Homo sapiens: one gene and its partners. The protein of the gene in region 4 interacts with the protein of the main gene of each other region in a pairwise test. Each region holds a gene or a part of one and is shown on either strand. Other genes may lie near its edges. The genes, in order: KRTAP19-5, RIMBP3, TFG and SAXO4.

The links.
Region 1: the proteins of SAXO4 (region 4) and KRTAP19-5 interact in binary tests that used the Homo sapiens proteins (3 or more experiments, as listed by UniProt).
Region 2: the proteins of SAXO4 (region 4) and RIMBP3 interact in binary tests that used the Homo sapiens proteins (3 or more experiments, as listed by UniProt).
Region 3: the proteins of SAXO4 (region 4) and TFG interact in binary tests that used the Homo sapiens proteins (3 or more experiments, as listed by UniProt).

Annotation. Positions count from the first base shown.
Region 1 is NC_000021.9:30,500,855-30,506,913, reverse strand, and holds KRTAP19-5 (keratin-associated protein 19-5), read left to right. Parts: upstream 1-4,772; 5' UTR 4,773-4,823; coding exon 4,824-5,042; 3' UTR 5,043-5,257; downstream 5,258-6,059. UniProt on the Homo sapiens protein: In the hair cortex, hair keratin intermediate filaments are embedded in an interfilamentous matrix, consisting of hair keratin-associated proteins (KRTAP), which are essential for the formation of a rigid and resistant hair shaft through their extensive disulfide bond cross-linking with abundant cysteine residues of hair keratins.
Region 2 is NC_000022.11:18,608,364-18,616,847, reverse strand, and holds the start of RIMBP3 (RIMS-binding protein 3A), read left to right. Parts: upstream 1-4,928; 5' UTR 4,929-5,413; coding exon 5,414-8,484. UniProt on the Homo sapiens protein: Probable component of the manchette, a microtubule-based structure which plays a key role in sperm head morphogenesis during late stages of sperm development.
Region 3 is NC_000003.12:100,726,002-100,733,980, forward strand, and holds part of TFG (protein TFG), read left to right. Parts: intron 1-2,710; coding exon 2,711-2,857; intron 2,858-6,506; coding exon 6,507-6,671; intron 6,672-7,979. UniProt on the Homo sapiens protein: Plays a role in the normal dynamic function of the endoplasmic reticulum (ER) and its associated microtubules. Required for secretory cargo traffic from the endoplasmic reticulum to the Golgi apparatus.
Region 4 is NC_000011.10:61,476,419-61,484,467, forward strand, and holds the start of SAXO4 (stabilizer of axonemal microtubules 4), read left to right. Parts: upstream 1-4,701; 5' UTR 4,702-4,798; intron 4,799-5,363; 5' UTR 5,364-5,391; coding exon 5,392-5,500; intron 5,501-5,892; coding exon 5,893-6,010; intron 6,011-6,236; coding exon 6,237-6,390; intron 6,391-8,049.

The DNA of each region.
Region 1 (6,059 bases), on a different chromosome or scaffold from region 4:
CTTCATGTTAAAAACTCTTAACAAACTAGGTATTGATGGAACATATCTCAAAATAATAAGAGCTATTTGTGAGATACCCATAGCCAATATCATACTGAATGGACAAAAGCTGGAAGAATTCCCTTTGAAAACCAGCACAAAACAAGGATGCCCTCTCTCACTGCTCCTATTTGACATAGTATTGGAAGTTCTGGCCAGGGCAATCAGGCAAGATAAAGAAATAAAGGCTACTTAAATAGGAATAGAGGAAGTCAAATTGTCTCTCTTTGCAAATGACATGATTCTGTATTTAGAAAACCCCATCGTCTCAGCCCCAAAACTCCTTAAGCTGATAAACAACTTTAGCAAAGTCTCAAGATCGAAAATCATTGTGCAAAAATCACAAGCATTCCTATACACCAACAACAGACAAGCAGAGAGCCAAATCGTAAATGAAATCCCATTCACAACTGCTACAAAATGAAGAAAATAGCTAGGATTACAACTTACAAGGGACGTGAAGGACCTCTTCAAGGAAAACTACAAACCAGTACTCAAGGAAACAAGAGAGGACACAAAGAAATGGAAAAACATTCCATGCTCATGATAGGAAGTATCAATATCATGAAAATAGCCATACTGCCCAAAGTAACTTATAGATTCAATGCTATTCCCATCAAGCTACCATTGACTTTCTCAGCAGAATTGGAAAAAACTACTTTAAGCTTCATATGGAACCAGAAATGAGCCTGCATAGCTAAGACAATCCTAAGCAAAAAGAACAAAGCTGGAGACATCACGCTACCTGACTTTAAACTATACTACAAGGCTACAGCAACCAAAATAGCATGGTACTGGTACCAAAACAGATATACACACTAATAGAACAAAACCCAGACCTCAGAAATAACACCACACATCTACAACCATCTGATCTTCAACAAACCTGACAAAAACAAGCAATGGGGAAAGGATTCCCTATTTAATAAATGATGCTTGGAAAACTGGCTAGCCATTTGCAGAAACTGAAACTGGACCCCTTCCTGGGGAAATTCAATAATACAAGGACAAAAGAAGTGAGAGCTGGACCAAACGTTAGATTATTACAGATTGTACCGTGCTGCCCCCTATAGTACAGGTGAGGAAATGCCGAACAGTTAAGTGATGCCTAGAGTTAAAATCTAAGTGTCAGAATCAAGACCAGAAAGCAGTTCACCTGAACCTAATGCTCTAGTCCATCATTCTGAGTCTCTTTCACTGCATAATTCCAAATCTGAATGCCATCTGGAAAGTTCTTGTAATAATACTGTGGATGGTTTCAATTTTGGAGCAGAGTATATGGAGACTAATTTCATCTCTTAGATTAACTATGTTTTGTTGCTGTTGTTTTTAAAATTTTTCTTGTTAACTTTTATTTTGTTATATATAATACATTTCTGAATTGCTAACTTAGCTTTACTTGAAGGCAAAAACAGAACAAATAAGCTCAATTCTCAAGATTATTTATTTTTATGAGAAATACTTGGGTTTGTTTATGCAATGTAAAGATGAAATATGAACAAACAACTCAGACAAATCTTGTTATTTCTCTCTTTAGATGCTGTACCTTCACAGGGGAGGGCAAGGTAGATAAATTTTGGTAATTTCATTAAAGGAATTTTGACCCTATAACTGAATTTCAGATGAAACTGCTCTATTCTCATACAGGTAAATATCCTCCCAGCCTGAGTAAAAGTATTAAAAATTTGCAATTAAAAGAAAGATCAGTATAATTATAATGAGAAAAAGCACTTGTGGCATTGCTGGTATAATTCAATATTAACATATTTTTGTAACTTACATTTTTATATATTATTAGTTTGTGTCTGAGTTAAACGAAGTCTTTGGAATTTATAACAAAAGCTTTCTTTCTTTCCAGGTAAAAGTTACTACTTATCCCAAGTAAGAACATATTTTCTTCTTCCTTATCCATTATCATAAAGTTATTAAGCATATATTCCAAAGTAAACTTCCTAAAAGTGAAAAGAAGGAGAAAATATAAAACATCATTGTTCTATCAACTTTGGGTCTAATCGACTTTGAGTCTAACAATCTCTTTCAGCATAAAACCAATATCACTACAAATGAATATATGTCTTCATTTTACAATGGATGCTTTCATTTTACTATTTGTTCACTTCGAAAAAAGGACAAAATATTTGTTCTATATATTTTGTATATAAAATATGTAGATTTATATATTTTATTTTAGTATTAATCATTTACTGCTTACGATCATTAATTGGTCTTGTGGAAAATTATCACATAGTCTATTTCTTTAAAACATTCTAATTCTTATTTGGCTATTGAGGTTTTCCATTTATATCTTGTTTGGTTTTATATCTCAGATGTATGCATTGTTTATGCATCCCAAACAAAAATTAGCTATTAAACACTCTTACATTATCAGGCTGATTTATATGGACAAACTGTGGTATCCTTAATATAGTTATTTGTGATTTTGAGTTATTTGTGATTTTATGGCTTCAAAAGGACTCACTGAGAACTCAGCTTATTGACTGTTTCAAGTTCAGATGAGAAATAAGAATGAACCAATATTTGGATAAAAGAAATGTAGCAAATATTGGATTAAATCCTACTCTATAAATGGAAAGACTTATTGAGCTATTTTTCTGTCTTAAAAAGGTAGCTCACTAAGGCGTAGTCAGGGTTGTGCACAGATTGTGGTTGCTGTGGCAGTTACTGTCAATTTACTTAGAATTTCTTCAATAAACAATTTTTAATTCCCTAGTCTGTTGCTTAGAAGAACTGAAGCATTCCTTTTAGGAAATTTATGTTTGATAAAATACTTATAAATCTCACAAAAACTCACCAGCATGTTCAAAGTCATGTAAATTAAATGAATTTTTAGTTGTCGAAGCCAAGAGACAGGTGCTGCATGGAGATTAATCAAGAGTGGTCTCAATGTTGTATCTGTTTCACTAATTCAACAAAGTCAGCTGAGGAACTCTATGAAGCCCAGGGCAAATTTCTTTACATATGTTTCTCTATTCTGTGCCATTTCACCATGGTGCCTTTATTTTGAAAACTTTGAAGACAATTTCTATTTTAGGATACCTTTTAAATTTCAGAAAGCCATAGGAGTTGGAGTACATTTTAAAAAACCCATCCCCTCAAGTATTTATCTGTTGAGTTAACAAACAGTCTAATTTTACTCAAGACATTTTAAAATGTACAATTAAGTTGTTATTGACTATAGTCACTCTATTGTGCTATCAAATAGTAGGTCTTATTCATTATTTCTAAGTATTTTTGCTGGGGTGGGGAGTTGAGGATGTTTAGTAAGTACAAAAAATAGAAAGCTTTAAAAATGATATTTTAATGAACTATTAACAGATCAGTAGGCAGTGGTTAGAAATTACCTCAGAATAAATGAGTACAGGATAGACATAGAAGAACATCAGAATCACGCCTGTAATCCTAGCACTTTGCGGGGCCGAGGCGGGCAGATCACGAGATCAGGAGATCAAGACCATTCTGGCTAACATGGTGAAACCCCGTCTGTACTAAAAATCCAAAAAAAATAGCCAGGCGTGGTGGCGGGCGCCTGTAGTCCCAGCTACTGGGGAGGTTGAGGCAGGAGAATGGCGTGAACCCGGGAGGCGGAGCTTGTAGTAAGCCGAGATGGTGCCACTGCACTCCAGACTGGGCGACAGAGTGAGACTCCGTCTCAAAAAACAAACAAACAAAAAAATCAGGAAAGATGTTACAGTGAATACAAAGAGGAGATAGAAAAAAAAAAGCGTTGAGATAAGTCGATGGAAGACAGAGGGAATGTATGCAATAAACTTCTACCTGGCTGTTTCTATAGACATTAAGAAAATGGGAAGAAGAATAAAAGCTGAAATGAGAAAGGAAATAGAGGTCATATATACACTACTGAAAAATGATAAAGAAAGAAAGTAATTGACTAGAATGTGCAAAACAGAGGCAGATGCAATCTGCAATTTTACCAGGACTTTGAATAAAACCAATTATAAAGGAGAGTTTTAGGACTTGAATGGAAAACTAAAGTGCTACTCTGATAAGTCTGCGTAGGAGATGGATTTTGTGCCCTCAATTTCTGAAATTAATTCTTATGTATTTTGCAACCAAAAGGTTCTGAAGCTGGTGTGCAAAGTCAAAAATAGTATAAAAGTTATTGTGAATAAAATGCTAAAAATCAGCATACACTCTCTTTTTTTGAGTCCTTTGGCGATTGTACACAGCAGGGCATTAAAATCATTTTGATTTCAAATGTTTTCCTGTATTGTGCATATAGGCACTTTCTGAAGACCTCACCTTGATAAATAAGTTTGCTTTTTAAAACTATAGATTTAACATCTGTAAATTGAAAAAACAGCTGTAAATTTAGTTGAATATGAAGTTATCAGTTTGGAAGATGACGGACAAAGGAAATTATTCATTATAAAAGGAATACCATAAAGTGTAGATGATGTAATACACCTGGTAATAGGCAATTCTGTTGAGCATTTGGAATGTGCATATTTTGAACAGTAAGCCCTTTCTTTTCATAAAAGCAAAGCAGTAAGTTCAATCGTGTCCTGAATAAGACATTAAGTAAGCTGAAATATTTTAATGAGAATGAGGGCATCTCCCTACATCAGAAGACAATAGATAAATGAGTTGTAACATCAAACGTAATACAAATAACTATAGCAAAGGAGGGTATACAGATGACTCATCACACGCTCTGACCAGGGTATATAAGCCTCCTACACATGCTGGTGTTCACACTCAGGATCTTGCCTTGAGCAGCATACCAACTCACCACTCCTGACACCATGAACTACTACGGCAACTACTATGGAGGCCTGGGCTACGGCTACGGAGGCTTCGATGACCTGGGCTATGGCTATGGCTGTGGATGTGGCAGCTTCCGCAGACTGGGCTATGGCGGTGGCTACGGAGGCTACGGATACGGCTCTGGCTTCGGAGGCTATGGATACCGCAGCTGCCGTCCATCATGCTATGGAGGATATGGATTCTCTGGATTTTATTGAAATCCTTCCCTGACAACCTAACATGAGGGGACATAAGAAGATCACCCAAACCTGACTGCAATAACAAACAAACGAGGTCACCCTGGATCAAGCCAAGATCAAGAGCAGTTAGCATCTAAGAGGTTTAAGAATACCTATCATTCCATAATTCTTTGCTTTATGTCTCTGGATGTGTCTTACTTGTACCTTTATAACTGTGGGGTTTCTCTGTTCCTTTTAGAATAAATTATGCTAACTGAAAGCAAATACACGACTTTTGTTTTTTGCTTGACTCAAAATGGCAAAGTGGTTATTTGTAATTATATCCAGTGAAAAAAGAACAAACTACTATACATATAGAAGTATATTATATATAACAAAATAATTTTGTATATACATGCACCTATCTATATAGCTGTATGTATGTGTGTGCATGTATATATTCACATTCAAAGGTCACAGTTGACCCTTGAATAATGTAGGGGTTAGCAGTACTGATTCCCCCATGCAGTTGAAAATCCACATATAACTTTTGACTCTCCAGAAACCTAACTACTGGTAGCCGACTGTTGACTGGAAGCCTCACTGATAACATAAACAGTTGATTAACACATACTTTGTGTTTTATATGCATTATATACTGTATTCTTACAATAAAGTAAATAAGAGAAAAGAAAATGTTATGAAAATAATAAGGAAGAGAATTTATATTTACTGTTTGTTAAGTGGAAGCGACTCATCATAAAGGTCTTTATCCTCATTGTCTTCACATTGAATAGGCTGAGGAGGAGGAGGAACGGGGACGATGGTCTTGCTATCTCAGGAGTGGCAGAGGTAGAACAAAATCTCAGTATGAGTGGATTCACTCAGTCCAAGCCCATGTTGTCCAAAGGTAAACTGTACATGCACAAATGAAAACCATAACACTCAATTAAAAAGAAGGCTTTTTCTTTGGAACACTGCGCCATATTCACCATATCTTTTTCATTTCAATGCTTTCAGTGAGATCATGTTAGTGTTTAAATTCAGCCTTGAAAT
Region 2 (8,484 bases), on a different chromosome or scaffold from region 4:
TAGAGATGCAGCCTTGCCGTGTTGTCTAGGCTGGTCTTGAACTCCTGAGCTCAAGTGATCTGCCCGTCTCAGCCTCCCATAGTGGTGGGATTACAGGCATGAGCCGTCACATCTGGCCTGTTGTTAATTTTTTTTCTTTTTTTTTTGACTCAGACTCTCACTCTGTTGCCCAGGCTGGAGTACAATGGCGTGATCTCAGCTCACTGCAACCTCCACCTCCTGGGTTCAAGCAATTCTCCTGCCTCGGCCTCCCGAGTAGCTGGGATTACAGGCACCTGCCACCATGCCCAGCTAATTTTTGTATTTTTAGTAGAGACAGGGTTTCACCATGTTGGCCAGGCTGGTCTTGAACTCCTGATCTCAAGTGATCCACCCACCTTGGCCTCCTAAAGTGCTGGGATTACAGGCATGAGTCACGGCGCCCAGCCTACAAAAAAAAAAATTTTTTTTTTTTTTGAGATGGAGTCTTGCACTGTCACCCAGGCTAGAGTGCAATGGCATGATCTTGGCTCACTGCAACCTCTGCCTCGCGGGTTCAAGCGATTCTCCTGCCTCAGCCTCCCGAGAAGCTGAGTCTACAGGCGCCTGCCACCACACCCAGCTAATTTTTTGTATTTTTAGTAGAGATGGGGTTTCACTATATTGGTCAGGCTGGTCTTGAACTGCCCAAAGTGCTGGGATTACAGGCGTGAGCCACTGCGCCCAGCCAGCACAGGAGTTTTGACCTGCTCCTTTTCGTTTTCCTTTTTCTTTCTTTCTTTTTTTTTTTTTTTTTTTTTTGAGATGGAATCTCACTCTATCGCCCAGGCTGGAGTGCAGTGGTGCAATCTCAGCTTGCTGCAACCTCCACCTCCCAGATTCAAGCAATTCTCCTGCCTCAGCCTGCCGCGTAGCTGGGATTAGGCATGCATGCGCCACAATGCCTAGCTAATTTTTGCATTTTTAGTAGAGACGGGTTTTCACCATGTTAGCCAGGCGGGTCCCGAACTCCTGACCTCAGGTGACCTGCCCACCTTGGCCTCCCAAAGTGCTGGGATTACAGGCATGAGCCACCGAGCCCGGCCAACCTGCTCCTTTTCTAACCTGGGCCAGTTCACCTCTCCTTAGACAAGCTGGTGGTTTCCTGCTCCCAGGAAGTCACCAATTTATGCCAAGTTTAGTGCAGACACCCCATCAGTATAGTACATTACAATCCAGAAGTCCTGGATCCAAGCAAGCCTCCTGCCTCAGCCTCCCAAGTAGCTGGGAGTATAGGTGTGTGCCCAGCAGTTCTATATTTCCAAGGAACCCTGGAGCCCTAAAGAACCCAGTTTGAAACCACCACTTTCAGGCTGGGCATGGTGGCTCATGCCTGTAATCCCAGCACTTTGGGAGGCTGAGGCCTGTGGATCACTTGAGGTCAGGAGTTCAAGACCAGCCTGGCCAACATGGCGAAACCTTGTCTCTACTAAAACTATGAAAATCAGCTAGGCATGGTGGCAGGTGTTTGTAATCCCAGCTATTTGAGAGGCTGAGGCAGGAGAATCACGTGAACCCAGGAGGTGAAGATTGCAGTGAGCCGAGATCATGCCACTGCACTCCAGCCTGGGTGACAGAGTGAGACTCCATCTCAAAGAAAAAAAAAAGAAACCATCTCTTTCATTTAATAGGTGAGAAAGTTGAACCTGGAGAAGGCAGCAGCATGGTGAGCTCATGCAGGGACTCCTGCCTCCCTGCAACTCATTCTCATATGTCTTGGGCACCAGTGATGTGCTAAGTCACATGCACGGATGCAATAGGGACAAGGGAAAACATGGCTTCTGCTCTCCCCAAGATCAGAGTTGATGGGGGTGACAGGCAGGTCACTGGACAATCACTGCACAACATGATGAGAACAGGGATGGCAGAAACCCAGCCCTGGGGAAGCCTGGCTTTGCTCATCCACTCAACCAACATTCCCGAATGCTTTTGACATACTTTGGGGCAGCTGCTGGATGGTAACTGTGGGGTTCCCAGAGACCCATCCACCCCAGTGTCCTTTTTCTTGGTGACAGCCTACTCTCTTTTTTTAATTTTAATTTTAATTTTTATTTTTGAGATGGAGTCTCGCTCTGTCGCCCAGGCTGGAGTGCAGTGGCGGGATCTCGGCCCACTGCAAGCTCCACCTCCTGAGTTCATGTCATTCTCCTGCCTCGGCCTCCCAAATAAGTGAGACTACAGGTGCCCGCCACCACGCCTGGCTAATGGCTAATTTTTTGTATTTTTAGTAGAGACGGGGTTTCACCATGTTAGCCAGGATGGACTCTATCTCCTGACCTCGTGATACGCCTGCCTTGGCCTCCCAAAGTGCTGGGATTACAGGAGTGAGCCACCGCACCAGGCTTTTTTTTTTTTTTTTTTTTTTTGAGACAGTCTTGCTCTGTTGCCCAGGCTGGAGTGCAGTGGTGCCATCACAGCTCACTGCGACTTTGACCTCACCTTGCAGGCTCAAGCAATCATTTCATCTCAGCTGGAAATGCAGACTGGGTCTCGCTCACTCTGTTGCCCAGGCTAGTCTCAAACTCCCGGGCTTAAGTGACCCTCCCATCTCAGCCTCCTGGGTAGCTGGCACTACAGGCATGCACCAGCACGCCCAGCTAAAATTTTTTTTGTAGAGACAGGGTCTCTCTATGATGCTCAGGCAGGTCTTGAGTTCCTGGGCTCAAGTGATCCTCCCACCCTGGTCACCCAAAGGGCTGGGATTACAGGTCTGTGCCACCATGCCCGGCCCAGCCTGCCCTCCTGACCTGACAGTTGAGGCCCTACTGGAGACTGCAGCAGGGCATCCAGGCTGTGAAACCCCACCCACCAGCTCTGCCTCAGTTGCCCATGTGCCCTGGCAAGCCAGTGGCTCTCACTGAGCCTCAGGTTCTCTTCCGTAAAACAGGGCTGTGATGAAGATTCTCTCAAGATAGTCCTCCCTGTGGCTACCATGCCCAGGAGCCCAGCACCAGTTCAAGGCTAAGGCCATCCCTGCATCTCACCTCCCCTTCCTCTCACATACACACTACATCTGCCTCACCTCTCATAAAGAACATCTGGGCTGGGCACGGTGGCTCACGCCTGTAATCCCACCATTTTGGGAGGCCAAAGTGGGCGGATCACAAGGTCAGGAGATCGAAATCATCCTGGCCAACATGATGAAACCCTGTCTCTATTAAAAATACAAAAATTAGCTGGGCGTGGTGGCGCATGCCTGTAATCCCAGCTACTCAGGAGGCTGAGGCAGGAGAATCACTTGAACGAGGGAGTTGGAGGTTGCAGTGAGCCGAAATCGTGCCACTGCATGCCAGCCTGGTGACAGAGCAAAACTCTGTCTCACAAATAAAATAAAATAAAATAAAATAAAATAAAATAAAATAAAATAAAGGGCCATGCGCCGTGACTCACGCCTGTAATCCCAGCACTTTGTGAGGCTGAGGCGGGCAGATCACAAGGTCAGGAGATCGAGACCATCTCTACTGAAAATACAAAAAAAATTAGCCAGGCATGGTGGCGGGCACCTGTAGTCCCAGCTACTTGAGAGGCTGAGGCAGGAGAATGGCGTGAACTCAGGAGGCGGAGCTTGCAGTGAGCAGAGATTGCGCCACTGCATTCCAGCCTGGGCGACAGAGCGAGACTCCATCTCAAAAAAAAAAAAAAAAAAAAGAACATCTGGAGCCATAATTCCCGATGTTCTTGTTACTTGACACTGCCTAAAGGCATGTTCTGTGGGTTCCGGGGAAACTGATTTGAAAAACTTGAGTGTTGTAAAGGAGGGCCATAAGCTGAGTGAACACAGCAGTTGTGAGAGGTCCCAGGTGCTTCCTGGGGACAGGGAGACACGACAGACCAAGAAGCAAAGGGGCCTCTGATGTGACTTCAATATCAAGGTCTTGTCGGGCACAGTGGCTCATGCCTGTAATCGCAGCACTTTAAGAGGCCGAGGCGGGTGGATCACTTGAGGTCAGAAGTTCAAGACCATCCTGGCCAACATACTGAAACCCTGTCTCTACTAAAAAGTACAAAAAATTAGCTGGGCATGGTGGCTCAAGCCTGTAATCCCAGCTACTTGGGAGGCTGAGGCAGGAGAATCTCTTGAACGTGGAAGGTAGAGGTTGCAATGAGCCAAGATTGCGCCACTGCACTCCAGCCTGGCGACAGAGTGGGGCCCCATCTCAAAAAAAAAAAAATCAATGTCTCGATGCAGACTGCCAGGTATCAGGTGTCCATCCATGTCTCCCAAAAGCCACTTGGCACCAGGAGCAGACAGGAAGGGCAAAGAGGAGCCAGACTGAAGCAGGGCTTCTTAGCTCCCAAGCCACACAGGTGGCCACCAGTCAGAGAGGCAGTGTGTGTGTGTGTGTGTGTGTGTGTGTGTATTTCTTCAGTTCAGTGTGTGTATGTATGTTTCTTCTGCAGCTCAGTGTATGTGTGTATTCCTTCAGCTCAGTATGTGTGTGTGTGTATGTTTCTTCTGCAGCTGTGTGTGTGTGTGTGTGTGTGTGTGTGTGTGTGTGTGTGTTTCTTCTGCAGCTCAGGATGCCTCCAACATTTCTGCTGAAGCCTCACCCTCACTCCTGGCCCATCCTGAGGCCTCTACCTAAGATGCCAATGAGTAGCCCAGACACTGGGGCTCCAGTGTTTGTCACCAGGTGGTACCTGGATGTGGGAGGTAGACAGGCCAGATGGCCAGTTTGGGCAGTGCCCCTCATGCCTATCTGGCCCTGGGTCCCTATGCCACCTTGCTGGGGAGGGTCTTTTCGCTTACACCTCCTCTGAGCCGACTCTGCGCAGTAACACAAATGTGTATCAGGCACATCCTTTCCTCAAAAGGTGGATGACCAGTTGGGTGATCAGGGCTGTTAGGGGGCTGAAGGGTCCTGGGGAGTCCAGGTCTAGCCAAGTTGAGGCCTATCCTGCTGCATTTTCCAGCCACCTGACCCAAATACACCACCTGAACCCACGACCAGGTATGCCCACACCCCATGGGTGGCCTTAACACACACACCCTGCCCCTTTCTCCAAGTACAGGAGCAGCAGCCCAGACTTCCCTCGGGGCACCGCGGCCTGCTTGGGACTGCACAGTGCCTGGGAGGGTGCCTGGGGAGGGTCACAAGGGACTTGGTGCTAGAAGCAGGAAAAGTGTAGGGACCGGAAAAGCCCCCGTGCATCCTGGAAGGGACATGGGCCAGTTTGAGCAGGGGTGTGGGAGTCCAGCCCTGGCCTTGCCAGGTGGAGAGGCGCCTGGGCCAGACATCCGCGGCAGGAGGCGGGGGAACATGCCAAGAGGCGGAAGGGGCACGCGGAGACCCCCAGGGGGCGCCGGAAGGGGCGCGCCGGGCGGTCGGCGGCGGCCGTTGGCGAGCTGAGGCCTGCCAGGCGAAGTCTGGAGACCAGCCGGGCCGCGGCCGCAATGGCCAAGGACTCGCCCAGCCCCTTGGGCGCGTCGCCCAAGAAGCCGGGCTGCTCCAGCCCGGCGGCGGCAGTGCTGGAGAACCAGAGGCGGGAGCTGGAGAAGCTACGGGCGGAGCTGGAGGCGGAGCGGGCAGGCTGGCGGGCGGAACGGCGGCGCTTCGCTGCCCGGGAGCGCCAGCTGCGTGAGGAGGCCGAGCGGGAGCGGCGACAGCTGGCTGACCGTCTGCGCTCCAAGTGGGAGGCACAGCGCAGCCGGGAGTTGCGGCAGCTGCAAGAGGAGATGCAGCGGGAACGCGAGGCCGAGATCCGGCAGCTGCTGCGCTGGAAGGAGGCCGAGCAGCGGCAGCTGCAGCAGCTGCTGCACCGGGAGCGCGATGGCGTGGTGCGCCAAGCCCGGGAGCTGCAGCGCCAGCTGGCCGAGGAGCTGGTGAACCGCGGCCACTGTAGCCGCCCGGGGGCGTCCGAGGTTTCCGCGGCGCAGTGCCGCTGTCGCCTGCAGGAAGTGTTGGCGCAGCTTCGCTGGCAGACTGACGGCGAGCAGGCGGCGCGCATCCGCTATCTGCAGGCGGCGCTGGAGGTGGAGCGCCAGCTCTTCCTCAAGTACATCCTGGCGCACTTCCGCGGGCACCCGGCTTTGTCGGGATCACCGGACCCCCAAGCTGTGCATTCCTTGGAAGAACCGCTGCCCCAGACCTCCAGCGGCTCTTGCCACGCCCCCAAACCCGCCTGCCAACTCGGATCTCTAGACAGCCTGAGTGCTGAAGTCGGTGTGCGCTCCCGCTCGCTAGGCCTGGTGTCCTCTGCGTGCTCCAGCTCCCCAGACGGCCTGCTCTCCACGCACGCCAGCTCCCTTGATTGCTTCGCACCTGCGTGTTCCCGCTCGCTTGACAGCACCCGGAGCCTCCCCAAGGCCTCCAAATCCGAGGAGCGGCCCTCCTCACCAGACACCTCCACCCCTGGCTCCCGGAGGCTCTCGCCGCCACCATCGCCACTCCCGCCGCCACCACCACCGTCAGCCCACAGGAAACTCAGCAACCCGCGGGGAGGAGAAGGCTCTGAGAGCCAGCCCTGCGAAGTCCTGACTCCCTCACCCCCGGGCCTGGGCCACCACGAGCTGATAAAGCTGAACTGGCTGCTGGCCAAGGCGTTGTGGGTGCTGGCGCGCCGCTGTTATACCCTGCAAGCGGAGAACAAGCAGCTGCGGCGTGCAGGCTGCCCCTACCAGGCAGACGAGAAGGTGAAGCGGCTCAAGGTAAAGCGCGCGGAGCTGACCGGGCTCGCGCGGCGCCTAGCTGACCGCGCCCGCAAGCTGCAGGAGACCAACCTCCGGGCCGTGAGCGCGCCTATACCCGGCGAGAGTTGCGCCGGCCTGGAGCTGTGCCAAGTCTTTGCCCGCCAGCGCGCTCGGGACCTGTCGGAGCAGGCGAGCGCGCCGCTGGCCAAGGACAAGCAGATCGAAGAGCTGCGGCAGGAGTGCCACCTCCTGCAGGCGCGTGTCGCCTCGGGTCCCTGCAGCGACCTGCATACTGGAAGGGGCGGCCCCTGCACCCAGTGGCTCAACGTCAGAGACTTAGACCGCCTGCAGCGCGAGTCCCAGCGGGAAGTGCTGCGCCTGCAGAGGCAGTTGATGCTTCAGCAGGGCAACGGTGGCGCTTGGCCCGAGGCGGGCGGCCAGAGCGCAACCTGCGAGGAGGTGCGACGGCAGATGCTGGCGCTGGAGCGCGAGCTGGACCAGCGGCGGCGCGAGTGCCAGGAGCTGGGCGCGCAGGCGGCCCCGGCGCGGCGACGTGGCGAGGAGGCCGAGACACAGCTGCAGGCGGCGCTGCTCAAAAACGCCTGGCTGGCGGAGGAGAATGGGCGGCTGCAGGCCAAGACCGACTGGGTGCGGAAGGTGGAGGCTGAGAATAGCGAAGTGCGCGGCCACCTGGGCCGCGCGTGTCAAGAGCGCGATGCCTCCGGCTTGATCGCCGAACAGCTGCTGCAGCAGGCGGCGCGCGGGCAGGACAGGCAGCAGCAGCTGCAACGCGACCCGCAGAAGGCCCTGTGTGACCTCCATCCTTCCTGGAAGGAGATACAGGCGCTCCAGTGTCGGCCTGGTCACCCTCCTGAACAGCCCTGGGAGACCAGTCAAATGCCGGAGTCCCAAGTTAAAGGTAGCAGAAGGCCCAAGTTCCACGCACGGCCTGAAGACTACGCAGTGTCACAGCCCAACAGAGACATACAGGAGAAAAGGGAAGCCTCCCTCGAGGAGAGCCCAGTTGCCCTTGGGGAGTCAGCCAGTGTCCCCCAAGTTTCAGAGACAGTCCCTGCCAGCCAACCTCTGTCCAAGAAAACCAGCTCCCAGTCAAACTCCTCCTCTGAGGGGTCGATGTGGGCCACCGTGCCGTCCTCCCCTACTCTGGACAGGGACACAGCCAGTGAGGTGGATGACCTGGAGCCTGACAGCGTGTCCCTGGCCCTGGAAATGGGGGGCTCGGCGGCTCCTGCTGCCCCCAAGCTCAAGATCTTCATGGCTCAGTATAACTACAACCCATTTGAGGGGCCCAATGATCACCCTGAGGGTGAGCTGCCCCTCACAGCTGGGGACTACATATATATCTTCGGGGACATGGATGAGGATGGCTTCTATGAGGGGGAGCTTGAGGATGGCCGGCGGGGGCTGGTGCCCTCCAACTTCGTGGAGCAGATTCCGGACAGCTACATCCCAGGCTGCCTGCCTGCCAAATCCCCTGATCTTGGCCCCAGTCAACTCCCAGCGGGGCAGGATGAAGCTCTGGAGGAAGACAGCTTATTATCTGGGAAAGCCCAGGGAGTGGTGGACAGAGGGCTGTGCCAGATGGTCAGGGTGGGCTCCAAGACAGAAGTAGCAACAGAGATCCTGGATACCAAGACGGAAGCCTGCCAGCTGGGCTTGCTGCAGAGCATGGGGAAGCAGGGCCTCTCCAGACCCCTTCTGGGGACCAAAGGGGTGCTCCGTATGGCTCCCATGCAGCTACACCTGCAGAATGTCACAGCCACATCAGCCAACATCACCTGGGTCTACAGCAGCCACCGCCACCCCCATGTGGT
Region 3 (7,979 bases), on a different chromosome or scaffold from region 4:
CGAAGTCCGGTGATAGGCCATCTGCAAGCTGGGGAAAGAGAGAAGCTGATGCTGATAGTGGCTCAGTGGCTCAGTCCAAGTCCAAAAGCCTGAAAACCAGGGAAGCTGATAGTGCAGCCTTTGTCTGTTGCCAAAGGCCTGAGAGTCCCCTGGGAAGCTGCTGGTACAAGCCCTGGAGTCCAAAGGCCAAAAAACCTGGAGTCTGATGTCCAAGGGCAGGAGGAGTGGAAGCAAGCATCTGGCATAGGAGGGAGAGCGAGCTAAAGACCCAGCAAGCAAACTTATCCTACCTTCTTCTGCCTGTTTTGTGATAGCTGCACTGGCAGCTGATTGGGTGGTGCCCACCAACACTGAAGATGGGTCTTCCTCTTCTGGTTCACTGACTCAAATGTCAGTGTCCTCTGGCAACACCCTCACAGACACACCCAGAAACAGTACTTTACCAGCCATCTAGGCATTCCTCACTCTAATCAAGCTGACACCTAATATTAACTTAATTAATTTAAACTTAGCTAATTTAAACTTTTAATTGAGTATAATTTGGAGCTTAGTGCTCTTAAACCCACTGAGTAGATAATAACAGATTATAGGCCATACTAGGAATGTAAATGCAAGGTTCTTAAAAGTTCTGGTAAGATGTATCAGTGTGCTCCAAAGACCACCAGGAACACACCTGTAGTTGAATGAAGTTGGGTTTACTGACTTACTGCAGCAAGGGAGAATGAATACCACGGAGAACAATAGGATGTCTTACAAGTATGTTAGAAAAGTATTTTTTTTTGGGCTTGGGTTTGTGTTACCTGATTTTGGATAAGGTTCAAGGAAGTAGAGCTTTGCTCTGCATTGGATGCTCTCAGGAAGTAGAGATGATTCTATGTTTGGGTATCTTATCAAATCTTATCTAGAAGGTGAGAGGAATGAATCTTACTAAATCTTATCTGGAAGGTGAGAGGAATGAATTGAGGCTAAAGCTGCAGTTGGTAAAGTAGTAGCAGTTACTCATATTAGCCAGGATAAAAGGTTGTTTGGTCATTTTTCTGGTGTGGTCAGTGTTCTTGTTTTTGTCTGGAGTTTTGACATGGTTATGGACTGTTGATCTATCACAGATTATAGTCTTGTGTGATGTTGGTGTTCTTTGAAATATTTATATTCAACGGGAGAACACCACAGCCTACCTGTGAGTGCCAGGCCAGCTTCCAGCAACACTAAGGCCTGTCTTACTGTACCAGACCAGTTTCTGGCTGCTAGGAGCTGTTTTTCTCATCAAATATTGGAGAAAAAACAGTAATACCAAGTGAAAACCAATAATTGATGTAGGTAGGAGATTGTATTGAACTTCATAGCTATGCAGGGAGTATGTGAATTACTGTGAGTTTTCTTCTAAAAGCTTATAATTGGTGGTTTGATTTTGAAACATGTTTAACAAAGAATCGCCCTGAACTTTTATTTTCACGTAGATGTCCTTTTCTAATTAGGTGCTTCAGGAGTTTGTATGTATGTATACTGGCAATGTGCAAAGCATTTTAGTTTAATTTTTGAACGCCTGTCTTGGGGTTTGCAATCAGAGCCTTGTGTCACTTTCTTTTTAAAAATAACCTGAGTGGTGACAGTGTTTGTTGCTGAATGAAGGATTTCATTTTTTTCAGTCAACTGAAAATCATTTGGACAAAATGAATAATAAGTGAAGTAATGTTGCTTTCATTAAAAAATCACAACTAGAGATTACCGAGTAATCTCTGGCATTTTGTGGCTTATATACTGTTTCTGGAAGTAACTGCTTTGAAGGACAGTCATGATGTAGATAAGTTCTGCATATATTTTTAAATTTATATTTATTTTTTAAAATTTTTTGAGACAAGGTCTCCCTCTGTCATCCAGGCTGGAGTGCAGTGGAGTGATCTCAGCCAACTGGACTTCCCCTCCCGGGATCAAGCAATCCTCCCACCCCAGCCTCCTGAGTAGCTGGGACTGCAGGCATGTGCTGCCACACTTGGCTAATTTTTTAAGGTTTTTGTAGAGATGAAGTCTCACTGTATTGCTCAGGTTTTTCTTGAACTCCTGGGCTCAAGCAGTTCTCCCTCCTTGGCTTCCCAAAGTGGTGGGATTACAGGTGTGAGCCACCATGCCTGGCCCTGCATATATTTTTTTAACGATTTCTTTTAAGATCAGCTATTTTAGTTAGCTGTTTTTTTTCAAGACAAAGTTATGCAAGAGGGATAACAGACCTATCAGTCATGTTATATCTTTAAACATGTATAGAGTAAGGTATTTTTGTATTATTTTAAGAATAGCGTGAAATAAAATGAGCTTTTTAAGTTATATAATTTTTATTAAATTTAATAATTTCTATTAAATTTAATAAATATTTAAGAACAGCATGAAATAAAGTGAGCTTTTGAAGTTATGATTTTTATTAAATTTAATCATTTCTATTAAAAAGTAGAGCTCGGATTTTCCTACCAAACCTTTTTACCAGTAAGGTCATAGGCTATAGGTATGGCATCAAGAAAGACTGATAATTCTGCTTTTTTTCCAAAATAAGTTATTAGCCATAGAGAATTCTTTTTTTTTAAAAAAAAAGTTACTCCATTACATTGATATCTTGTTTTTGTTTTTTTAAAGGAATTGTATTTATTTTTCCTTGTTGCATATTATTAGTATACTTATTCATGAACTTCTAATTTTAAGCAAATAAATGTTTTTATTTCAGTTAATGGCCAGCCAAGACCCCTTGAATCAAGTCAGGTGAAATATCTCCGTCGAGAACTGATAGAACTTCGAAATAAAGTGAATCGTTTATTGGATAGCTTGGAACCACCTGGAGAACCAGGACCTTCCACCAATATTCCTGAAAATGGTAAACCCTGAATCCATTGTATTCTGACTTATTGTTCTTACGTCTTTTTGGAGGTTTTAAAAAACTCTTTTTAAGTAGGAGAAGGATGGCATCCCCAATGTCACTCTTGTTTCTTCCTCTGCCTCTCTACTAGTATTTATGTCTGTGTTCCTAAACTTTGCTGTTCATCAGAATTACTAGGAGGTTTCATTATACCAATTTCTGGATCTCATCATAGACCTACTGGAGCGTAGCACCTGGAAATCCCATTTTTAAAGTGTTTTTTGGGTGATTCTTTCGCAACTAGTCTTAGACTTTTGGATTTGTTACACAGGTCAGTTTTCAAATCCTTTTGACACATGAACCCTTTTTAGTATAATAGATAAGTAATGAACCTTGGGAATTGAAAATCATTTCATGAATAATTACATAGTGTTGGAAGTATTTTCAACTAAAAATCACTTAGATTAGTAATGTTCATTAAAAATGGTATGTTGTAAATTTGAAACACAGTTTTTAATAATAATTAAAGAAAAACTAATTTTTTCCCCATTGTATAATGACATGTACTGTTTGTGTTAAGATAAAGCAAAATGTGTCAACATTTGGAACTGACATAATTTTGGGACCGAATGTATTTTAAAATGTGGACTGAACTTTAAGTATGTGTTAATGACTTGAAAGTACAGTTAAAAAACTGCTTTCTTCTTTTAAGATTCTTAGATGTTGCATTTAAAGAAAACTCTTATTATTATTTTTTTCTTTTTACAAATTCTTTGTTTGCTTATAATTTTCATAGTTTAAAACTGTCCATATTGTGAAATAGTAATTTAAAAAAAGTCTAGACTGGATGACTGCATATAAAGGGCTTAACATGAGATAATTTTTGTGGATAAATGGTATGTATTCTATTTTTGGCCACTAAATATTTTGGAAGTTTTTGTTTTCTATTTTTATTTTAGTTACAGTTTAAATAAAGATGTATTTTCCATCATTTCTCTCTTCCTGTCTTCTAATAGTCATATGGAATTATGTTAATGATAGATGTTTAATAAATATTTGGTGATTGATTATTCCTAGTTGCACTTCTATTTCAGAACATAATGGAGATTTGCTGAATACTATAATGAGATCCTCTTGGTCACTTTATGATGAAACCTTTTATATTTCAGGTCAAAGAAGGTTGCCTATTCTGAGCCCTACCTCTCCAAACAAAAATTTCCAATTTTAGATCAAGAATCAATGAAAAAGTTAGACAATTTTTCCAGAAGAATTCATAGATGCTGACACAACATTTGCATATAATTTCAGGGGATTTAACCATCTGCAGAATATTAAGAAGTGTAGATGAGAATTTAACCAGTATAGCCAATACTGTTCAGAAATTAGCTACAGTGGCCCACATTCTACTCTAAGGAATGGATTTATGAGTTTTTTGCTTTAGGTGAAACTTTTTCCTCACCTCTTTCTTGCTACTGTTTATACTTTATTCTTTGTGTCTATATTTTTTATACATACTGTTAGCTTTTTACCTATGTTAATGTAAAAGGTGTTAAAATTGGTTTCTTCTCTGCATTTTGGAAATCATGCCATATGTTGTTTTCTTGTATGGCCATTTTCTAGTTATTGTGTCCTGTCTGACATATCTGATGATAAGATGATATAAGAATAATACAATCTGCATTATATTTTTAGAGATAGTTCTTATTTTTTTAGAAAACAAAAACAACAAGAAAACCATACATCAGAAACTGAAATCTAGTCCACAAAATGAAATTGCCAATCAGCTATCAGTGCTATTTAGAACCTGTGGCTTACCCTCACCAAGAAATGTGGCCACCTGTGGTCTTCAGCTCTCTATTACAGCGGTTCTTGGATGCTTGTTTTCCTTTAAGAGGCAAATGATGTGTAAACTACCTTAGATAGAAGATTGACCTGTTGCAGTATCTCCAGCAGCTAATGGAGCAAGTAGTAGGACGTATAGTATGTTTCCTGATGGTTTTAGTTTGTGATAAGTGAAAAGAGGCATAGGTAGTGAGATGTGAGGGGAAACAACTTGTAAGACTGACGTGGTATGCTCTTGGGATTAGAGGAAGGAAGTTGGTAGGGAAGATAGATAACTGGTAGACATGTTTTAAAGGAATACTTCTAGTAGTAGTTTTCTTTTTCCAAACATTTAGAAAATATTAGGGTAGCCTGGAATGGTATGTTAGGAATGAATGAGCTGCCAGCCAGTGTGTGCTGTGGGTACTTATATTCGGTTTAGCACTTAACATTTTTTTCAGAAGATACATTTTGTATTGATTACAGGGGTGATCTAAGAACTGATGTTCATTTACTTGCTTGGTAACAAAAGTGATAATCATTGTCCCTTAATTGAGTAAATGGTTAGCAACAGTCTTTTTGTTTACTTGTTCGTGTTTTTTGTTTGTTTCTTTTGATGTCTTTTGTATCTTGGACTTGGATTCCTATTTGTAAAATGTATGTTAAAATTCTTGAACTCTTTTTCTTTCACAAGACAGTAGTATAAATGCCTGTGGAATATCTTAGTATCCTGAGAAGAAAAGCATGATTTTAAATTTAACCTGCTCATAATATTTGACATTTTGTTTTTCTGTTGTTGTTTTAAACATTTTATTATAGAAAAGTTTAAGTATATAAGAAAGTAGACATTATAATGAATCCCAGAAACCCACATCCAGTTTCAACAGTTACCAACTTATAGTATCATATAATTACACTATACACATTTCCGCCCCTCCTGTTACCCAGAGTGGAGTACAATCTCAGCTCACTACAAACTTTGCCTCCTGGGTTCAAGTGATTCTCGTGACTCAGCCTCCTGAGTAGCTGGGATTACAGGCATGCATCACTGTGCCTAGCTAATTTTTGTATTTTTGGTAGAGATTGGGTTTTGCCAGGCTGGTCTCGAGCTCCTGACCTCAAGTGATCTACCCACCTCGGCCTCTCAAAGTGCTGGAATTACAGGCATGAGCTGTTGCACCCGGCTCCCCTCCTGTATTATTTTGATGCAGATCCCATATACATCATTTCATCTGTAAGCATTTTAATAAGTATTTTAATAAGTAATACATATTAAAATAGAAGGTAGCAAATTCAAAAATGTTTTTAATGTGCTATTTATGGAAGATTATGAATTAATTATGGTTGGCTTGATTTCCATGTAATTTAATAGTGGACCAGTAGACAGTAGAAATAAAATGTAAAATTTGAGATTATAACCTTAGTTCAGTTTCTTTTTATAAAATAAAGCCTTAGTTCCTATAATTATTATTTCCAGAGTGCCCAGTGGGTATCTGATACTAGGATATAGGTTATTGGGCTCCAAAAAAACCAAAAAAAGTAAAATGTTTCTCTTTATCAAGGAGCTTGTATTTTTTTCATCTAATGTTTCTTACAAAAGGAGGTAAATAATTTTTTTGGAAAGCTTTTGTTCATCTTCTGTTTCTTTTTGCCCTCTTCTCCCTGTTACTAGAAGGAAAAATATAAAAAAAATAAAGGAATTAAAATGATCTGTAATCCTATATTCCGACATGCTTAACATTCCAGACTATCATTATACACCTGCATTATTTCCCTTGTACTTTTAGGCCTTACTGAATATAGATAAAAAGGAAACAAGTTTTTGTTTATTCCTCTATTTTTACAGATACTGTGGATGGTAGGGAAGAAAAGTCTGCTTCTGATTCTTCTGGAAAACAGTCTACTCAGGTTATGGCAGCAAGTATGTCTGCTTTTGATCCTTTAAAAAACCAAGATGAAATCAATAAAAATGTTATGTCAGCGTTTGGCTTAACAGATGATCAGGTTTCAGGTAAGTTGGTTTCCAACTCCTTTACACCCTTCGTTTCCTTCATCTTTCCGTTCTTCCCTTTCCTTCTTTCTTTAATTGAAGAATAACTTGGATATGGTGAAGTGCACAAATCTTAAGGGTTCTGCTTAACAAATTTTTACATATGTGTACACTTATGTAAAAGACTAACTAGATTAAGATGTAGATGATTTCCAGCACTTCAGAAAGCTTTCTTATGTCCTCTCCCCAAGAGTAGCACCCTCCCCCTTAAAGAATAAGCACTGTTGGGTTCAAGTAAATTTTTGAAAGTAAAATTTAGAAAGTTTTTAAAAATCTGAACTATTTTATAATTTGATTAGTTGCAGTATTCGAATTATATTTGATTTGTCTTATCTCCTCATCTTAGAGAAATTGAAAATTAAATGTAGATTTTCTTGTTAAATTGCTTGAGTATACAGTGGGTTTTTATATAAATAAGTTTTTAACCTTAAAGCAGTACCTATATTGTTTTATTCTGTTTAACTTTTGGTTATAATTTCTTCATTATTTTTTCCTGCTTTTTCTCTTTTCGGATTCTAATAACACATACATTGGAGAGCTTGATACTGTCTCATGGGTCATTAAGGTTCATTTTTCTTCAGTCTTCTCTCTGTTCTTCAGGTTGGGTGATTTCTGTTGAACTCTTCAAGGTCGCTGTGATTTCTAATATGCTGTGGAACCTTTCTAGTGAATTGTTTAATTGTGCTTTCAGCTCTAGAATTTCCATTGGGTTTTTATAGTTTCTGTTTTTCTGTTGAGATTCTTTATTTTACATTCATTAAGTCTATATTTTCCTTTAATTGTTTGAATGTATTTATGTTTGATTCTTTAAAAATATTTAGCTGCTTTAAAATGTTTATCTGCAATATGTAACACTTGGACCCATTTGGAGTCAGTTTCTATTGACTGGGTTCCTCTCCCCCACACACACTCCCCCCAACTCCAGTAGGGTCACATTTTTCTGTTTCTTTGCCTGTCTGATAGTGTTTGGTTGAAAACTAGACATTCTGGTTAATATGTTGTAGTGACTTGGACTTATATTCTTTTGAGGATTTTCTGTTATTGTTGATCTAGCAGGGAGTTGATTTGTATGGACTTAACATAAATAACAAACAGAAAAGCGCTCTCTAAAAGAAAAAGGTATTTGGGAATAGAGCATTGCATTGAAAATATGCATGCCATAGTAAACTATGTGCATATTCAGTGAGGTAAAGGCAGACAAAGGTTTTTAAAGGAAAAAATGAGGAGAATATATAATTGTTTTGAAATAATTATTGTTGGCTACAAAGA
Region 4 (8,049 bases):
TTAGGAGGCTTTTCTATCCATTAAGCTGAAGTATGCCAACCTGTCTCTTCCCTACAAGAGCCCTGGCTTCCCTCTGAGGGCGGCTATAAAGACCCACATCAACCAAAGCAAAATGACACACACTTGGTGGTGTGTGGCTCATTCACTTCAGTTAATCCTCTTTTAGGGAACTGCAGCCCACATGGCCCAGCACAGAGCGCAGATGTCTGTCTCTGCTCAGGACTCAGCACTCAGTGGTGGTGTGCTCTGGCCTCGGGAGCCTGTTAGGGCCTACCCCACTGATCCCAGCCAAGGAACTCTATGGGCTGAGACCCAGCATGTCCTCTCACTGGGTCCTCTCTGCTAACCTAGTGTGTCTGTAGCCTCTGCCTTCGTATGGGAGGGAAACAGGGGAATCTTTTTTTTTTTTTTCTGAGATGGAGTCTTGCTCTGTCGCCCAGGCTGGAGTGCAGTGGTGTAATCTCGGCTCACTGCAACCTCTTACTCCTGCATTCAAGGAGTTCTCCCTGCCTCAGCCTCCCGAGTAGCTGGGATTACAGGCGCCCACCACCATGCCTTGCTAATTTTTGTATTTTTAGTAGAGACGGGGTTTTGCCATGTTGGCCAGGCTGATCTCGAACTCCTGACTTCAGGTGATCTGCCTGCTTTGGCCTCCCAAAGTGCTGGGATTACAGGCATGAGCCACTGTGCCCGGCTGGAAACGGGAATCTTACTGCCCAGGACTGGGCAGAGCTAGAAAGTAGGAGGCAGTTGCCCATCTGGCCAGGGCAGCCCATCCCTTTGGAAAATCATCCCTTTGGAAAAGCCCAGTGCTAAGGTCCCGGCGCTTTCTGGAGAATTTGCTGGTGTGTTCCAGAGGGCGGGGCATAGATTCCAGGGTCAAAGCTGAGTTTGGATCCCAGCTCCACTCCTCCCTGTCTGCGAGGCCTCAGGCAGTTTCCTCACATGTAACATGGGCAGGATTATAGTAGTTCCCACGTAGAGCCGGGAGTGAAAAGCGATGATGAGGTGATTCGTAGCTCAGCTCTGGCACAATAAAGTGCTGAATAAATGGGGACAGATATGGGAAGGGAGTGGGATGAGGTGGGCCTAGATTTTCCAGTATGGAAGGACTTTTAGTCTGTTCCTTCATTTTGTAGATAGAAGGACTGAGGTCCACAGGTGACAGGTCCAAAAGTCACGCTGCTCTTGGGTCACCTGGCACCTGGGCTCCCGCTCCTTGTGGGCTCCAGCGCTTGCCCTCCCGGAACACTCCTTGCCCAGACGCAACCCTCCTGTTCTGGAGGGATGGGTGAGTGAGGCTTGGGGTGGGGCTGTGGCCAGGTCGACGGAGCTGCTCTGTCCCCAACTCCTAGGACCCCCCGACCCCGGTCTTAGGGATTCATCTGCGGCATCTCCTGCAGTTCCGAGTTATGGCCGCTGGGTGTCGCCACACAGCAAAAAACCCACGGGCCGCCGGGAGGACGGGACCTAATGGGGGCTCTGATGGGACAGCGCCGGCCAGACCCTGATCCCCGACCCTTGAACTCCTGCCCAGGTCCTTGGTCGGCTACAGCCTAGAGCCTCCCTAAGAGAAGCCCTAAGGGATGATTTCAAACCTTTCTACCACCCCTCCTTGCCCCCTCCACCTGCTAAAAGGAAAACCTGGCTACAGCCTACCTGGGGGCTGCTTCTCCCAGCTGAGCCTCTCCTCCCCACGCAGTGCTCCAGCCACGCTGCACTAGTCAGGGCTCCCAGCCTGCTGGACACCTGTCTCCGCCTTTGTGTTTGTCGGGCTTTCCACGTAGAGGGCCCTTCCTTATCTCTGCCTGGTGCAGGCCTGTTACCTCTTGTGCATAGGGTATTTCAAATCCACCAGCGACCCTGCTAGGTAGGCACAGTTATCCCTGCCTGCAGGTACAGAAACAGGCTCAAAGAGAGGAAGCCCCGAGTCACACACAGCAGAAGCAGGTTTTGAACTCGGGCTCCCACAGTGAGCTTTCTTTTGCTACATCTGAGATCCTTCCTAAACCGTGGGCTCTCTGAGGCCAGGGCCATGTGGATTTCCTGTTTGTAACCCTTAGGCCCAACCCTTTGCCTAGCAGGCAGTGAGTACTCAAAAGGAACCTCTTTCCCTAGCTCTTAGATGGCACCTACCGTGTGCCAGGTACTGGGCTAAATGCTTCGTGCGTACCACAACCCTGCAGGTAGTTACCATTATTATACTCATTCTCCAGAAGGGGAAACTGAGGCACAAGGAACATGCACTGTCTTACGGTTATCTAGTGGCAGAGACAGGACCCACACCATCTGGCTTCAGAGTCCAAGCTCTTGCTCGTAGCCACTTATCCAGGCACACTTAGAGGAGGGCCCCTCTCTCCCTTCACCCTGTGAGCACCTCACCTATGGTGGTCTCACCCTTTGTGCTTCGTGTGTGGAACTCCCACGAGCCTCTGTAGTAGAATGGGAGCACTTTGCTGGAGGGCAGGGCTGTGTGCACTCACTCCTGTGTCCTTGTGCCCTGTGATCCCTGAACAGAATCGTTAGTCCGGAGGGTGGGTGCCAAACGTGCTTCAGCTTGCCTTCCCATGGGGGGCTGGGTGAGGACACGAGTGAGCCTCCACCCTGGCAGGCCAGGTCACTACAGGATGAATGCGGCAAGGGCATCTCCTGGGTGAGGAAAGGAGATGCCTCCTTTCCCTTTATTCAGCCTTCATTCATACCTCACTCTCCCCTGAGAGCAGGGGTGCTCTGAAGCCAGCTCTACCGGCTCAGGAGAGCTGAAGGCGAAACTTCCAGGAAATTGGCAAGCTGGTTTTTAACTCTGCCATTGTTAAAAATTAAATTACTGGCCGAGCGCGGTGGCTGACGCCTGTAATCCCAGCACTTTGGGAGGCTGAGGCAGGCAGATCACTTGAGCTCAGGAGGTCGAGACCAACCTGGCCAACATAGTGAAACCCCATCTCTACTAAAAATACAAAAATTAGCTGGGCGTGGTGGCGTGCACCTGTAATCCCAGCTACTCAGGAGGCTGAGGCAGGAGAATTGCTTGAACCAGGAGATGGAGGTTGCAGTGAGCTGAGATCGTGCCACTGCACTCCAGCCTGGGGGACAGAGCAAGACTCCATCTCAAATAAATAAATAAATAAATAAATAAATAAATAAATAAATAAATAACTTAAACCTGCAATTTAATGAATTATATTAAAAACAAAAAAAAATACCTAAAACTCATCACCCCTTAATTATGTGAGTACATTTTTCTATTATTTGTGCTGTCGAGGTTACTTACGCCCATTATGTCTGCATGATGGGACTACTCCCGTACAGTGGTGAGCGACCTTCCCATGTCCCGGTTCAAAGACACTGTAGTGGTGGTTTGAAAGCAGCCCTGATGGGACCACTGACATCACAGAAATTGGCAAATGCTGCAAAGTAGGGCTATCCCACCCCACCCAGAGATCTAACTGTTACAACATTTACAAGCCTGAAAGCCAATTTGAGGCAAAAAGGCTGTCATGGAAGAAGATTCTCACTGTGGAGTTTGCGCACTCAGATTTGAGTCCAGGCTCCGTCTCCACCCACTGTGGGGCCTGGGCTATTTCCCCTTGAGCCTCGCCTTTCCTATCTGCAAAATAAGACTAAAAGTACAGCAGCTTTTGCAAATTGAGCATTTGCCGAGTGTGGTGGCTTGCCCCTGCAATCCCAGCAACTCAGGAGGCTGAGGCAGGAGGATCACTTGAGGCCAGGAGTTCAAGACCAGCCTGAGCAACATAGCAAGACGCTGTCTCTACAACAAATAAATACATAAATAAGCAAGTCAGGCAGGGGGGAGCACACCTGTAGTTCTGGCTACTTGAGAGTCTGAGGCAAGAGGATTGCTTGAACTTAGGAGTTGGAGGCTGGACTGAGCTATGATGGTACCTCTGTACTCCAACCCAGGTGAGAGCATAAGATCCTGTCTCTCTTAAAAAAAAAAAAGAGCATTTACTACCTGTCAGGTGCTGAATCCATGCTCTTGCTAAATCTGCCAGCAGCCCTGTGAGGTGGGTGCAGTCACGTCCCTTGCGAAGATGGGGATTTGGGGGCGTGAAGAGGATAAGTACCTCATCAAAGGTGACAGATCAGATTTGAACCACACTCTTAACTGCTGCGGTTTATTGGCCCTACAATAATAGTGCCCAGTTCACAGGGTGGTTTGGGGGATTACACGACGTAATGTGTGTTAAAGGGCTTAGCACAGATTCAGCTCCAGAGGAACATAGTAAATGTTGATTTACCGAGAGGCAGAAGAGCGGGATCCACATCCACCCACGTTTGAATCTCAACTTGGCTATTTTCTGATTGCGAGATCTCTGGAGTCAAGTCATTTTGCTTATCTAAGCCTCATGTTCCCCCAGTGAAAATGGGGATAATCATAGCTACTGAAGAGCTGCTCAGAGGATGGAGATAGAGGATGTAAAGTATCTGCCGAGAAGTGGGTACTTTATGGGAGTGAGTGTTCGGGATTATCTTTTATTTTATGTCACGCAGACAGCAACTCTTCCCAGCCCTGTGGAGGAGGCCGGAGGTTGGGGCCGGAGCCCTGGAAGCAGGGCCTTGCTCGGGCAGCTTCTGACCCTCCCCTCCTGGCCAGGTCAGCCCCTCAGTGGGCCCTGGCCCTAGAAGGTCTCAGAAGCCTGGGGACGCTGTTGCTAGGCACCAGTTGCTAGGCTACACATTGTTTCTCCTGCTTGGCCTCCTCCAGGAGGGCTGGCTTCTCTGCAGAGCTCTGCTTCCTGCAGCCTCTCCCCGACCTCAGAGCCTCTGCAGAGGAAAGGTGAGGGTGGGGCCGCTGTGGTTGGGCCTCGGGGAGAGTGCAGCCAATTCCCAGGGGAGGCAGGCAAGGCCAGAGGCGGGCAAGGCCATGGAGATGAGGGAGAGAGAGGAGCCGGGGGCTGGGAGTGAGCGCCTCGGCCTGACTTCTTGGGTGGGGGCCAAGAATTCCCCAGGTAGTGGGTTGTCGGCTCATTCATTCCGAGAGGTGGGTATGTAAGGTTCAGGTCAGGGGCCGAGTAGTCAAACACCTAGGTCTGAATCCCAGCACTACCACCTATTATGGAGCAAATCCTTTATCACTTGGAACCTCACTGTCCCAGTGGTAAATGGGGACAGGAAGAGTTAATAAGAAGGTGTGGGAAAGTGAGAGGAGACATGAGGACTCTTGGGATAAGTGTGGATGATCGGTTTCGTCCTTAGTTTAGGGACTTGGGAGCTGGGGCAGAGAGACAGAGGCCTGGGAGAAGGGGCCAGCTGCGTTGTGGGTGGTGGGGGGCAGATCTTCGCCCCTGTGGGCTTCCGAGCCAGGCTTGGGACCCATGAGGCTCCCCGTGCTTCCTTTCTAGGCCCCCTGGGGCCCTGCCCCACAGCATCATGATGGGGAAACTCCCCCTGGGGGTCGTCTCCCCTTATGTGAAGATGAGTTCGGGGGGCTACACGGACCCCCTGAAATTCTACGCCACCAGCTACTGCACCGCCTACGGTGAGGGTGCCTTTGCGCAGGAGCCTCTGCTAGGACATGGGCAGGAAGGGAGGGGCTCTCTCTGAGGGAGGAGCAGACCCTCTGGCTGTCACACTGCAGAGCAACTGCTGAATCCGTTTGTCCCCTGGGCCCTGCCCGGCTGCTCCCTTCTCTGGTTCTGTCCCTGCAATTCTGTCACTGTGATTCTGCCACACTGACCTTGTCCCCAGCCCACCCACTCCATTTCCTGCCATCACAGTCCTGAAAGGGCAGGCTTGCAAAGCTCCTGCCCGTGGCTCTGAGCCCTCCCCTGTCACTGTGACCCCTGTGCCCCTCGGAGGACGCTGGCCCTGCCTGGGAAGCCCTGCCTGTTTTTGACCTTGGGGTCTGTCTCCCCGTTACCCCTCTGGCAGGTCGGGAGGATTTCAAGCCCCGTGTGGGCAGTCACGTAGGCACCGGCTACAAATCAAATTTCCAGCCCGTGGTCTCATGCCAAGCCAGTCTGGAGGCCTTAGACAACCCGGCCAGGGGGTACGGTCTGTATGGCCCCTTCCCAGCCCCTGCCCTGCTCATCAGACCAACTCCAGGTTCCTTGGATGGGGACCCTGAGCTTTGCCTGCCCTAGGCTGGGGGTCCTGGGTGACTCAGGGCACAGCGGACCTCTGAGCCATCTGTGGGAGGGTGCAGGGAGGAGGGAAGCTCCTTAGCAGAGGACAGAGGCAGGCGGCCTGGGGTTCTAGCTCCTCCTCACCCTCAGGGAACAAGCCCAGGACCATTTCCAGTCTGTGGCCAGCCAGAGCTACCGCCCCCTGGAGGTGCCTGACGGCAAGCATCCCCTGCCCTGGAGCATGCGCCAGACCAGCTCAGGCTATGGGCGGGAGAAGCCCAGTGCGGGTCCCCCCACCAAGGAGGTCAGTGCTGGGCCAGGGCCAGGAGAGGGAAGCCTCAGGGTGGGGTGGGGCTAGGGCTGCACTGCCAACAGTTGGTCAAGGTGGAGGTGACAGGGCATGGAGCAGCCACCTTGTAGGGATGGGGTCCACTCATCTTTCTCCCCTTTGTCCTCATCCTTGTCCCCACCATCCCCACCACCTCTATTCCCTGCCCCAGCCCCACCATTACCTCCACCTCCATTTCCATCCCCATCCCTGTCCCCATTCCCATGAGCCTCACACTCCCGTCCACACCTGCAAGCCCCATCACTGTCCCTACTACCACCACTGTCCCCCCACCATGGACATCCTCACCCCATCTTTTTCATTTCTTTTTCTTTTTTTTTTTTTTTTTTTTGAGATGGAGTCTCACTCTGTTGCCCAGGCTGGAGTGCAGTGGCACGATCTCGGCTCACTGCAACCTCCACCTCCTGGGTTCAAGCGATTCTCCTGCCTCAGCCTCCCCAGTAGCTGGGATTACAGGCATGTGCCACCACACCCGGCTAATATTTTGTATTTTTAGTACAGACAGGGTTTCACCGTGTTAGCCAGGATAGTCTCAATCTCCTGACCTCGTGATCTGCCCGCCTCAGCCTCCCAAAGTGCTGGGATTACAGGCGTGAGCCACTGCGCCCAGCCCCATCTTTTTCATTTCTATCCTCATTATTACCACCCTTCTTATCATCAGCACCACCACCAAAATGGACACTCATTCATTCATCCAGCGAGAATGTTCTGAATATCTCCTTCATATTTGAAGATGATAAGAGCGGGTGGAGTGCGGGGTGGGGCGGGGGTTAGGAAATACAACAGGGAGAAGCAGGGAGGAAGAGAAGTGAAGGAGTTGGAGGCCAGGTGCGATGGCTCACACCTGTAATCCCAGCACTTTGGGAAGCTGAAGCAGGCAGATCACTTGAGGTCAGGAGTTTGAGACCAGTCTGGCCAACATGGTGAAACTCCATCTCTACTAAAAATACAAAAACTAGCTGGGCATGGTGGCACGCACCTATAATCCCAGCTACTCAGAAGGCTGAGGCAGGAGAATTGCTTGAACTCGGGAGGCGGAGGTTGCAGTGAGGCTGAGATTGCCTGGGCAATAGAATGAGACTTGGACTAAAAAAAAATAAAGCCAGGCGTGGTGGCTCACACCTGTAATCCCAGCACTTTGGGAGGCTGAGTCAGGTGGATCACTTGAGGCCAACTGCTGTTGGGTCAGCCTGGCCATCATGGTGAAACCCCATCTCTACCAAAAAAATACAAAAAAAAAATAGCCAGGTGTGGTGGCTTGCATCTGTAGTCCCAGCTACTTGGGAGGCTGAGGCACAAGAATTGATTGAACTCAGGAGGTGGAGTTTGCAGGAAGCTGAGATCATGCCACTGCACTCCAGCCTGGGCAACAGAGCGAGACTCTGTCTCAAAAAATGTAAGTAATAAATAAATTAGAAGCGAAGGAGTTGCAACTGCAAATCGGGAGGGTCGGGAAAGAGCTTGCTATGGAGACACTGGACAAAAACTTGAGGGAGGCCAGCTCCTCCAGTTGCAGCTGTCTGAGGGAGGAGTGGTCCAGGCAGTGCCAACAGCAAGTGCAAAGGCCTCAAGGTGGGAACAGAAAGGAGACAAGCAGCTAGAGCAGGGTGAGGC